Homo sapiens: one gene and its partners. The protein of the gene in region 2 purifies or fractionates together with the protein of the main gene of each other region. This does not show direct contact. Each region holds a gene or a part of one and is shown on either strand. Other genes may lie near its edges.

Region 1 (3,653 bases), on a different chromosome or scaffold from region 2:
TTGAGGGCAAGGTGGCTTCTCTAGAGCTCATACCTCGGGGTTCCTGTTTTCTTTAGTTTCTGTACTGTTATTCCTTGCTCAGTTCTTGAAGCTTCAAAGCCTTTCAGACTTTTTTTTTTCTGGAGTCAGAGTCTCACTTTGTCACCCACGCTGGGGTGCAGTGCCACAGTCTCAGCTCACTGAAACCTCTGTTTCATGGATTCAAGCAATTCTTGTGCCTCAGCCTCCCTAGTAGCTGGGATTACAGGTGTGAGCCACCGTGCCCAGCCATTCAGAAATTTTTTTTCAATGTATTCATTGTTAGTTGTGTTCAGCAGAATTGTGAGCCTGATAATGGAGCCTGCCTTCCCAGACAACCAGACTCCAGACCTGTTTTTCCATGTTGCCTCTGCCACCCTCATCCATTCTGGGACGGGACGTGATTAATTTTGTGTACCACTTTGATCATGTCAGACTTTTGCTTAAACACCTCTCCAGCACGAAATCATACCTATGGGAGCCTGGCGACAACATGAGCTACAGCTCTCCTTCCCATCACAAGGCTTGGGGGGTCAGTGTTAAAACCCAAGGGCTTTGTAGTCTGCTGGAACTATGGGAAAAAGAGACTGTTGAGAAGGAAGCTTTCTTTTTTGGCCTTTCAGTTCCTGAGGGCTTGAGAGAAGCTTGTCTCTTTTTTTGAGCCTGGGTATAATTGAGTTTCAGGAGTAGAGGGCAGGAGGCTAGCCATTTTATATGGTACCAGATTGTCAGATGGATAATGAGACCTTTCATTTCTCAGTGCGGCCAGTCACATGCTGCTGGTTGAGAACTGAGGTCTTAGCTTGTAAGTGAGCTGTCCATGACGGAGCACAGAGGGCAGGTACAAAAGCTGGGACAAAGCAGGAATAAAGAGCGTGTGTGGCATGTTTGAAAAGGCACCCTGCCGGGCATCGGGCCTCAGTGTCAGGAAGCCCATGTTGTCAGTGCTGTGCCCTTGGACAAACCATGTAGTCTTCCTGGGTGTCAGTCAGGTCCTTCCTCTTGGCCTTGGCTGTCCTGCATGGCTGTGGCTGTGGGAGGGTCGGCTCAGTTGGCCTTAGCAGCCAGCCACTGGGAGGACAGAGAGAAGAGGGAACTTGAAGTGGTCCCCAGGAGGAGGCAGAGGCAGTGACCACTTGATAGGTTGTCTAGAGCCCAAACCATGGTCTCTGGTTCTAGCACACTCAATTACCCAGCAGTTTGGGGCCTGGAAGCAGCCTTTGTTTATCTAGCCTAATCCCCTCATTTTGCAGATGAGCAAACAGAAGCCTGGACATTTTCTTGTATTTAAAGAGCAGTAGTGATGCTCCGGCCTCGTGTGGCTTATTTTAGTAAAAATCTAGAGAAGTGGAACCAGGCTTTGGTTAGTGTGGGTTTGGGGGCATTTACTGTGAACCTCTGAGGCCACTGTCTGAGTGAGCCCTGGAGGACAATAACAACAGTGAGCCAGAGCCTGCCCCCATCTGGCCACCTGACACCCAGCTCTCCCTGGGGCCCACCTTCAGCTCTGTCCGCCCAGTCTGATCAGAGGTCGCTTTACCTGGCCAGTCAGGGGGCCCAAGTGTGTGGAGGATTAGGCAAGCAGGGTCCTGGTGACCTCCACACGAAAAATAACTCTGCTTCCTGAGCAGGTGCCAGCTTTTTGTTCCCTGGGGCCTGGCCTGACTGCTGAGACCGCAGGCTTCTGAACGCATTGCTGTTTTCACCCTTTGGCGCTAGGCTGGGCCTAACTTTGCCCTTAGATTCCCAGGCCTTCTTATCCTCAACTGCAGACGGGCCTCTCCACTCTTGCCTTGGTTCCTGAAGGACCGATTCACTCTGTTCAACCTCAAAATCATGCACTTTGTACTTGGACTTGTGCCCACAGTTACCTTCATTTATAGCCACCGCTGTGGGTGAAGCAGCCTCAGAACAGCAGAGCCTTACATATCATCCTTTTATGTTATGAAAGCAACTTAAATGAGTTTTTCAGCCCACTGAGAATTATCAAATACCAAACTTTTCTTTTTAAATTACCTCTATAATTTTCTTTTTAAATTGCCCTTATAAAACTAGGTGATAGTTAAATGAAAAACATATGTTGCTTCTGATATTTTTCTTCTTACTAAGCCTACAAATTCCTTAGCTTAAGATAACAGGGAAGGATTGTCCTGGACCCGAGGCTGTGTTTTTCTGGCTGCTGCCAGTTCCTGGATTTAAATTGCTTTGTTGGTGGATAGAGATCATTCCCTTTTCCTGGATTCAGGATAGGAAAGCCTGAGGGTCACAAATGAGCCTGGACAGAACTGTGTGTGAAAGTTTTTACGGTAACTTCTCTCAAATATTTGATACTGAAATTGTGTAGTTTCAGCTTGAGTCCATGTTGCAGCTGGGCCCTTGAATGTAATTCTTGTCATCCTTGGAATATTTCCTCCTTCTAGTGATCCAGGATCACTGTTTCCCAAACCCCCTTATTCCCCTACCCATTTTATGATTTCTCTTGTTGGTAATATCAGTTGCCAGCATTTTGAACCTGAATATTTAGCAGAAGGCTTAAATTAGGAGCTCTTCAAATTAAAGAAATAAGCAAGCCACATAATGTCGATTGTGGTAGATTACTTGTAAGCGTATTGTGTTGGGTTGGATACAGTCACCTGTAAACATAAACGTGTAGCGTTTTAAATTTGGAAAGGACTGTGGATCTACCTCCATTTTACAGACCAAGATACTGAGACATCGAGAGGCCCTGGCTTGTTCAAAGTCCCACAGAGTCAGCTGTAGAAAGACAAGTACTAGAAGCCCTATGTCCTGGGCCCAAGCTGGGTGCTCTTTCCACTGCCCCACGATGCCCCTTTTGTCTCAATGGCCTCCCACTGCTCCCCACACTCACCCTCTGTCCTGGAAACAGAATAGAGCCAGGTGGCTGCACACACCATGCCCATTGCCATCTTTATGCCCTTGTCCCTTCCCTCTGCCTAATCATGCTCATCCCACTACAACTCACCCATCAGTTCCAAAGACCCGTTGGATGTCCCACCTCCCACACTGGTGTCATCCTCCTCAGAACTTCTGAAGCGTGCCCTGTGTCTTGGCTCTTTTTACATGGTCTCTGTCCAGGTGTGGTCTTAATTTTTACATAGTAGGGCTAGTGCCCAGTAAATGGGCCATGAGTGAATAAAGAGAGATGACTGTACCATGTCACAAGGTGGGCGTGGCATCTTGTTTTGCTGCCCAGCTTTTCAGGCTTCTGACTTCGTTCCAGCTAAGCTCCAGAAAGAAGCAATCAGCTATTAAGCTCCAGAAGGGCAGAAAGCATAGCTTCCACATCTCTCACCACAGTCCTTGGTAGAGTTCTTGGTTGGTGGTGGGTTACAGCAGTGATACTTCATTTTCCTGACACATGAATCTTGCATTCAGTTTAAAATATGTTTGCTTTATCCTGATGCCTCAGAACGTGGCCATGTCCTCATGGCTGCCTCATGTCTTCATGGCTGCCTAAATACTCTGGTCTTATGGTACCTACCATTTGAGGAGGCCAACAGACCATGGCAATTAGTTTACAGATTTCCACATTTGGATACTTTGCTACTTACTTGCAATAGCAGGAAGTTGGGAGATGCAGGCCAAATAATTGTTAGGATTGCTGTGAAAATTGC
Region 2 (3,653 bases):
CTCAACCACTGGAAATGCCTCCTGGGATAAGAATGGCAGCACTTGAAAATTCTGCCCTCTACTGATGAGACTTCCTGCTGCCTTTGGACATAACTAAGCCAGGAAACTTTAAAAGCCTTCTAGAAATAGAGGCACTGTATGACTTGCAATCGTAGGTATAGTTTATAACCTGATAGCAAAAAACTTGAAATATTGCAGCCCAGTTTAATTCAGCACTTTCCCATTTTCATAACTATGTGAAAACATCTGGGAATTTGAATCACTCCTGAATACAGAGGCATATTCTTTTTAAACTATAAATACCATTTTGAGTGAGAAAGTACTTTTAAACAAGAAAGAAATTGTACATTATGACTAAAGTTATAAATACAATATTTATATCTATAAATCTGAAGTTTAACATGATTAATTTAAAAAGTATTTAGTGCTTGACAAAGTAGTGTCACTCTTAAGATGTCAAAGGGAATTAGCCATTTTTTTTATTGTAATAAAGGCAGGTGCTATTTTTTTCTGGTGAGATTGCACCTGGATACCAGGCTTTTGTAATAGTTAACATTAAACATTTGATTCATAAAGTTAATTCACTGCTTAAGCATGTGGCTCATATTTAGGAAGCTATATAAAATTCAGTTTTTCATTTAACATTTGCTCTTTTGCATATGAAGAGATATTTGTATTTTTCAAATGTTAAGTAAAACAAGATGTGCCAATATCATAGGTAAATAAATTAGGGAAAATGTGGGACTTTATGGCTGTTTTTAATTTAGTTTCACCCGATCTTGATTCTTGAATTAGCTATGTTTATATTTTTAGTTCTTTTTTATTCAACTCAGATTTGTCAAGAAATGTAACCTCTAAATTGTGTAGTACCTCTCCAATCATAAATTTTCAAAAAAAAATTCTACTTTCCAAAAAGTGTCTTGAATTCTCTGAAAAGGCACATTAAACTAATATGAACATCAGATACCAGGGGGAAATAAATGGCAAAGTAATAATCATGAGGTTTTAGGTCAAAGACTACATTATATATATTTTTTATTACCTTCTAGTAGAGACATCCTCCTGGGTGCATTTCAGTGGCCTTCTCCAGGGAGGAGGTTTATTTACTTACTGATGAGTTTCTCGTCACGTCAAAACCAGTTCACATTTGTCTGGCTGCTCTTTGGTTGTCTTCATTCGTTATTTATTTCTAACACTGTATTAAATTGTTAGAAAAGAAAGTAAAACTTGCACATTCAAAGCACATGATTTGTACAGTCACACCTGGCAGTAGCACTGCACAGTTACAAATATGCACACACGTTAACTGCTATGCATAAATATTGACAGTTAAACCAGAACACAATTGAAACAGTGACATAAATACCTACAGGATTCAGAATTGTTCCAGGGTAATATAAATTATTCTACTTGTTCACTCTCCCCACCCTCTTGAACTTGTTAGAAGATTTGCTGCTTTAGCAGAATCTTTCCAAGATTGAGAAAAGTGTATCAACCTAGGATTTTCATTACTATATAGTCACATAAATGGAGGAGGAGATATATTTGGCTTCTGCCTCTGCAACAATTAGTATGAACATATTTCTTTCTCTAGGGAATAATAGGTTTTAAACATTTGAGATATCATGAAGCAAAGTCAGGGTATACCACTACAATCCCCACTAATCTCTATTCCCACATTATGAAATTGTACAGAAGAAAGGGTGTCATTAAATCAAGGTATCCAGATAATTCATGGCTACTTTAACTATTTTTTCATTCGTGTTAACTGAGCCCCCCATATTTTTTACTACTTAACCTTAAATATGCCATCACTAATTTATGAATAGAACATTGTGTTTGCACTTTTCCTGACCTATCCTCACCCCCTTTCCTGATCCTTTTTGCATTCACCTAGCACACCTTAAGAGACAAAAAATCAGGTTTTAGTGTATTTCACATTGGAAGACATGATGTTTTCTCAGTATAAATCTACAGGACTCATAAACAATCACTTTTTTGGTGCCAAGTTTCAACCCTTTAGCTCATGGACTCATTGGCCTCAGCCTAATACTAAGAAACAAGTAAAATAATTAGATTTTCTATGTTTGAATGTGCACTTTAAAAAATCTAGATAATTTATACTCATTCTTTTCTGGCTGTACAACATGACAATCAAGAATATAGAAAAGAAGACTAAAAGATATATGATATAAATGTAAGTTTTTATGTAGATGACATAAATATGAAGAGATATTCTTGGTCAGTTGGTTGAAACATTTTTTATCTAAAACACCTTTAAAAAATCCCTTTCATATGTAGAATGTGGAAGGCTTTTAATAAAACAAAAATTATTATTTTTAGGCTTAATTTAATAGGGAGATTGGATGCATAGTGGAAAGGGAACTAATATTTATATGTTATGCATTTTGCTTATGTAATGCCTTTCAATATGAAAACCAAAACCATGGCAGAATTATTACTAGCTTGATATGACAGATGAGTGAAAACAAAAAACAAGCTCAGCAGACTACCCAAAGTTAAAAGGTAGTATGAACCAAAATTAAAACTCAGGTTTACGTAACCAGAAAGATCCCCGAGGTGTTCACTACCGTGCTGCCTCCCAATAGAGGCCAGAGAAGCAAAGGAAGATAAAATATAGGTACAAAAAAGATACATCCTATATAGTAAAACAATTAGGTTTAACTGTAACTTGTATTATGATTTATTTAGTGTTTATTAGAGAACTGCATTTGCTAGAACCTGAATATGTAATTTCTTTCTTTCTTTCTTTTTTTTTTTTTTTGAGACTGAGTCTCGTTCTTGTCGCCCAGGCTGGCGTGCAGTGGCACAATCTCGGCTTACTACAACCTCTGCCTCCCAGGTTCAAGCAATTCTCCTGCCTCAGCCTCCCGAGTAACTGGAATTACAGGCATGTGCCACCATGCCCGGCTAATTTTGTGGCTTTTTTTGTTTTGTTTTGTTTTGTTTTGTTTTAGTAGAGATGGGGTTTCTCCTTGTTGGTCAGGCTGGTCTTGAACTCTGACCTCAGGTGATTCACTCGCCTCTGCCTCCCAAAGTGCTGGGATTACAGGCGTGAGCCACTGCGCCCAGCCTTGAATATGTAATTTCTGATTGCCTGCTTTTCTCCCCAATGCAAATTATCTCAAATAATGATAATTATTACATATAGACATAATTACTTCAATATGACTCTTTTTCTCATAAAAATAATGACATATTTGAGTCAGGCATAATACATTTTTTCTGAGGTTGGAGTTAGCAGGAAAATGTTATCTTTTATGAATAAATAATTCCCAGATTGGTTGCTACATATCATGATTCAAAAAGTAAAATAATTACCTGGATGTGGTGATGTGCACCTGTAGTCCCAGCTACTCGGGAGGCTGAGACGAGAGGGTCATTTGAGCCCAGGAAGTTGAGGCTTCAGTGAGCTATAATGGCCCCACTTGCAGTCCAGCCTAGGCAATAGAGTGAGAATCTGTCTCTATTAAAAAAAAAATAAAATGTTCTTACTAGAAAACATTATATTTAGAATTTTAGTGATTATTCCATTTATAATATTATCCGTAGCTACCAAAAAAAAGATTATAAGATACAAATGATTTGGTTTACCCATACAGTTACATATTAATTTTCATCATTTAATACAA
Region 3 (3,653 bases), on a different chromosome or scaffold from region 2:
GAGATCAAGACCATCCTGGCTAACATGGTGAAACCCAGTCTCTACTAAACAAAATACAAAAAATTAGCCAGGTGTGGTGGCGGGCGCCTGTAGTCCCAGCTACTTGGGAGGCTGAAGCAGGAGAATGGCGTGAACCCGGGAGGCGGAGCTTGCAGTGAGCCAAGATCATGCCACTGTACTCCAGCCTGGGCGACAGAGAGAGACTCCGTCTCCAAAAAAAAAAAAAAAAAAGATTTTAATGGAGCTGCCCTATACAGGCATGCCATTTTAATCTTTTCTACCTTATTTTTACTGTACCTTTTCTATGTTTAGACACACAAATACCACTCTGTTACAACTGCCTACAGTACTCAATACAGGTTTGTAGCCTAGGAGCAACAGGCCACACCATATAGCCTGGGAGTGTAGTAGGCTCTACCATCTAGGTTGTGTAGGCACACTCTATGAGGTTCACACAAGGACAAAATCGCCTAAGGATGCACTTCTCAGAATGTTTCCCCGTCGTTAAGTGCCACATGATGGTGGATTATTTGGGCAGTGGGCATGGTTGGGCTACAAGGAGACCCACATATGTGTGACACCAACTGCCACATAGTGGCAGACTAGCAACGGCTCAGCATGCTGGCTAAATGCATAATGTTTCAGGATCGGTGGCCCCCGCCTCAGCCATTTATGAGTGTGAACTTGGGCAAGTCATTTCACCTCTCCAAGCCTTAGTTTACCTGTCTGAAAACAGGGATGAGACTAGTACCTGCCTCATGGTGTTTTAAGTGCACATGGTGTGTGCTCAGTAAATGGCACTGCCATTATTATAATGGCACAGGACATCATCCACATCTCACAACAGCTGAGAAAGTGATGCCAGAAGGTTGTTTTGTTTTGTTTTGTTTTTTGAGATGGAGTCTTGCTCTGTTGCCCAGGCTGGAGTGCAGTGGCACGATCTCAGCTCACTGCAAGCTCCATCTCCTGGGTTCACACCATTCTCCTGCCTCAGCCTCCCGAGTAGCTGGGACTACAGGTGCCGGCCACCACGCCCGGCTAATTTTTTGTATTTTTAGTAGAGGTGGGGTTTCACTGTGTTAGCCAGGATGGTCTTGATCTCCTGACCTCGTGATCCGCCCACCTCGGCCTCCCAAAATGCTAGGATTACAGGCGTGAGCCACCGCGCCCAGCCAAGGGATACCAGAAGGTTGAACAGACACCTTGTGTCCAAGTCAGAGCTAGAGGCCTGTCTGCCAAACAGATGGAGGAGGGCGAGCCCTGTCCACTCCCATCTCAGAGAACCGGCTCAGTCCCTGCCCTTAGAGCAGTGGATCTCCAGCTATAGCCAGCATCAGAATCACCAGCAGCGCTTGTTAAATAATACTAGTCCCCATTCCCAGAGTTTCTGAATCAGCAGGTCTGAGTTGGGGCCCAGGAATCCACATTTCTAACAAATTCCTGGAGGACACTGAGGGTCAGGGACCACACTTTGAAAACCACTGCCCCACGCCATGCTGATGGGCATGGGCATATTTTGGAGACCAGCGCCAATAGCTGACTGGCTCACTGACCTAGGGTGGGCACCAGAGGCAAGGGCTACCCACCCGGAGGTGAGGGATTCATGGGGCCTGACACCAAAAGCCTGATGCTGTCCCAGGCATTTGAAACTGCAGTGGGAGTCTAAGCTGGAAGCCACGGAAAGTTGAGGCTGGGGCCAACTTTCCAAGTCGAGGAATGGTGCGGGAATTGGGCACCATTCCCGCCAAAATTAAGAGGGTAGGAGCAGAGGTCTGAAACTAGTAGCCCTCAGCTGTGTCCAGCTTGCAAACATGTTTTCAAAAATTTAAATTACTTGTCAACATTTGAACATTGGGAAAGTTGACACAAAAATACTGACTTTGGCCTGGCATGGCGGCTCACGCCTGTAATCCCAGCACTTTAGGAGGCTGAGGCGGGTGGATCACCTGAGGTCAAAAGTTCTAGATCAGCCTGGCCAATATGGTGAAACCCTGTCTCTATTAAAAATACAAAAATTAGCCGAGCGCGGTGGCAGACACCTGTAATCCTAGCTACTGGGAAGGCTGAGGCAGGTGAATCACTTGAACCCGGGAGGCAAAGGTTGCAGTGAGCTGAGATCGTGCCACTGCACTCCAGCCTGGGTAACAGTGCGAGTATCCATCTCAAAAAAAAAAAAAAAAAAAAATACTGATTTCCAGGCTGGGCGCAGCAGCTCACGCCTGCAATCCCAGCACTTTGGGAGGCCAAGGTCGCCAGATCACTTAAGGTCAGAAATTAGAGACCAGCCTGGCCAACAGGGGGAAACCCCATCTCTACTAAAAATACGAAAATTAGCCAGGTATGGTGGTGCACACCTGTAGTCCCAGCTACTTGGGAGGCTGAGGCAGGAGAATCACTTGAACCCAGGAGGCAGAGGTTGCAGTGAGCCAAGATCGTGCCACAGCACTCCAGCCTGGGTGACAGAGTGAGACTCAAAAAAAAACAAAAACAAAAACAAAAACAAAACACTGACTTCCAGATTATCTTGAAAACAGAATATTTGAGTACAACGGGGCCTACAATCCCTGGTGACAATACCTGATTAGAATCAGGTTGTGGCTGCCCTCTCCCCAGTTCACCTGGTCCCCACTAGGCCCACTTCACCCACTGACTGGCTCCTGCAGGCATGTGAGAGCGGAGTCTCAGGAGAAAACAGGACAGAGCAGCGAGGAGATACTGTAAGGCTGCCTCGGAGAAAGCCTCCAGCTTTTACTGACCCTGCTGGGCCACTCTACCACCCCACGCTGGCCCTGCTTTCCAGCATGGTTGAGCAAATCAACCAAGAGCCCTGACCCCCGCCTCCTGTGGCAAAATCTATCACAGTTGGGATTCTGGCTCTCATCTGTGCAGACTCAGACCTGCTCCTAGATGTCACTGCAGCCCACAGTGCCCTGTTACCAGGGGTGGACTGGTCGATGACCTATTTATTTTTAACAGGTAGATTAGCCACAAGTTGCTAGGAGAGAGAAGGAGGCTGGGCTGGCAGCATGGGCAGGATGGCAGGACTGACTGTGCCCACCTCTGGGCAAAGGTAAAGTGAAGGAGGAGGTTTGGATTTGAGCCAGGCCAAGGCCTGAGGTGAGCACATGCACCCCTACGTCTGCTCAGCTGAGGGGACATTCTGAGATGGCACCCAGGGTCTCCAAGTTGTGTTTCTGCTGCAGTCCATGGGGGCCCAGCTCAGCCTGGCAACCCAGGCGATGTGCCTCTTTGCCCAAGATAGGCCTTCTATCCCCGCTCTTCTTCTTCATCTGTTGAGCTCCTCCTATTCACCCATCAAGAGCCCAGCTCAAATGTCCCAGCTCAAGGATGACTGACCTCCCTGCCCTACCCCTGCATCCACAGCCCCTAAGCACAATGGTTCCCTGGACAAGATCCTTTCAGAGCACTCTGCACCCCTCCTTTATAGCACTTCTCACACTGCAATACAAGTCTGGCCACCAGAGCATCTTCTCCATTGGACTGTACACTCACTGAGGGCAGAGGCTCATCAGGTTTATCTCTGGGACTCCAGGCTCAACAAAGAACAGGTCTGCAGAGGGCTTTGTCAGGGAGGGTGAGAGCAGGAGGAGAGGTAGTGAGAGAGCTAGCCCTTAACAGAACTTACAGCCAAA

What was found.
Region 1: the proteins of SLC16A7 (region 2) and TEX2 purify together in Homo sapiens (affinity purification with mass spectrometry; one large-scale study listed by BioGRID and IntAct). This does not show direct contact.
Region 3: the proteins of SLC16A7 (region 2) and CAND2 purify together in Homo sapiens (affinity purification with mass spectrometry; one large-scale study listed by BioGRID and IntAct). This does not show direct contact.

What each region holds. Positions count from the first base shown.
Region 1 is NC_000017.11:64,214,715-64,218,367, reverse strand, and holds part of TEX2 (testis-expressed protein 2), read left to right. Parts: intron 1-3,653. UniProt on the Homo sapiens protein: During endoplasmic reticulum (ER) stress or when cellular ceramide levels increase, may induce contacts between the ER and medial-Golgi complex to facilitate non-vesicular transport of ceramides from the ER to the Golgi complex where they are converted to complex sphingolipids, preventing toxic ceramide accumulation.
Region 2 is NC_000012.12:59,780,884-59,784,536, forward strand, and holds part of SLC16A7 (monocarboxylate transporter 2), read left to right. Parts: 3' UTR 1-3,653. UniProt on the Homo sapiens protein: Proton-coupled monocarboxylate symporter. Catalyzes the rapid transport across the plasma membrane of monocarboxylates such as L-lactate, pyruvate and ketone bodies, acetoacetate, beta-hydroxybutyrate and acetate.
Region 3 is NC_000003.12:12,799,567-12,803,219, reverse strand, and holds part of CAND2 (cullin-associated NEDD8-dissociated protein 2), read right to left. Parts: intron 1-3,653.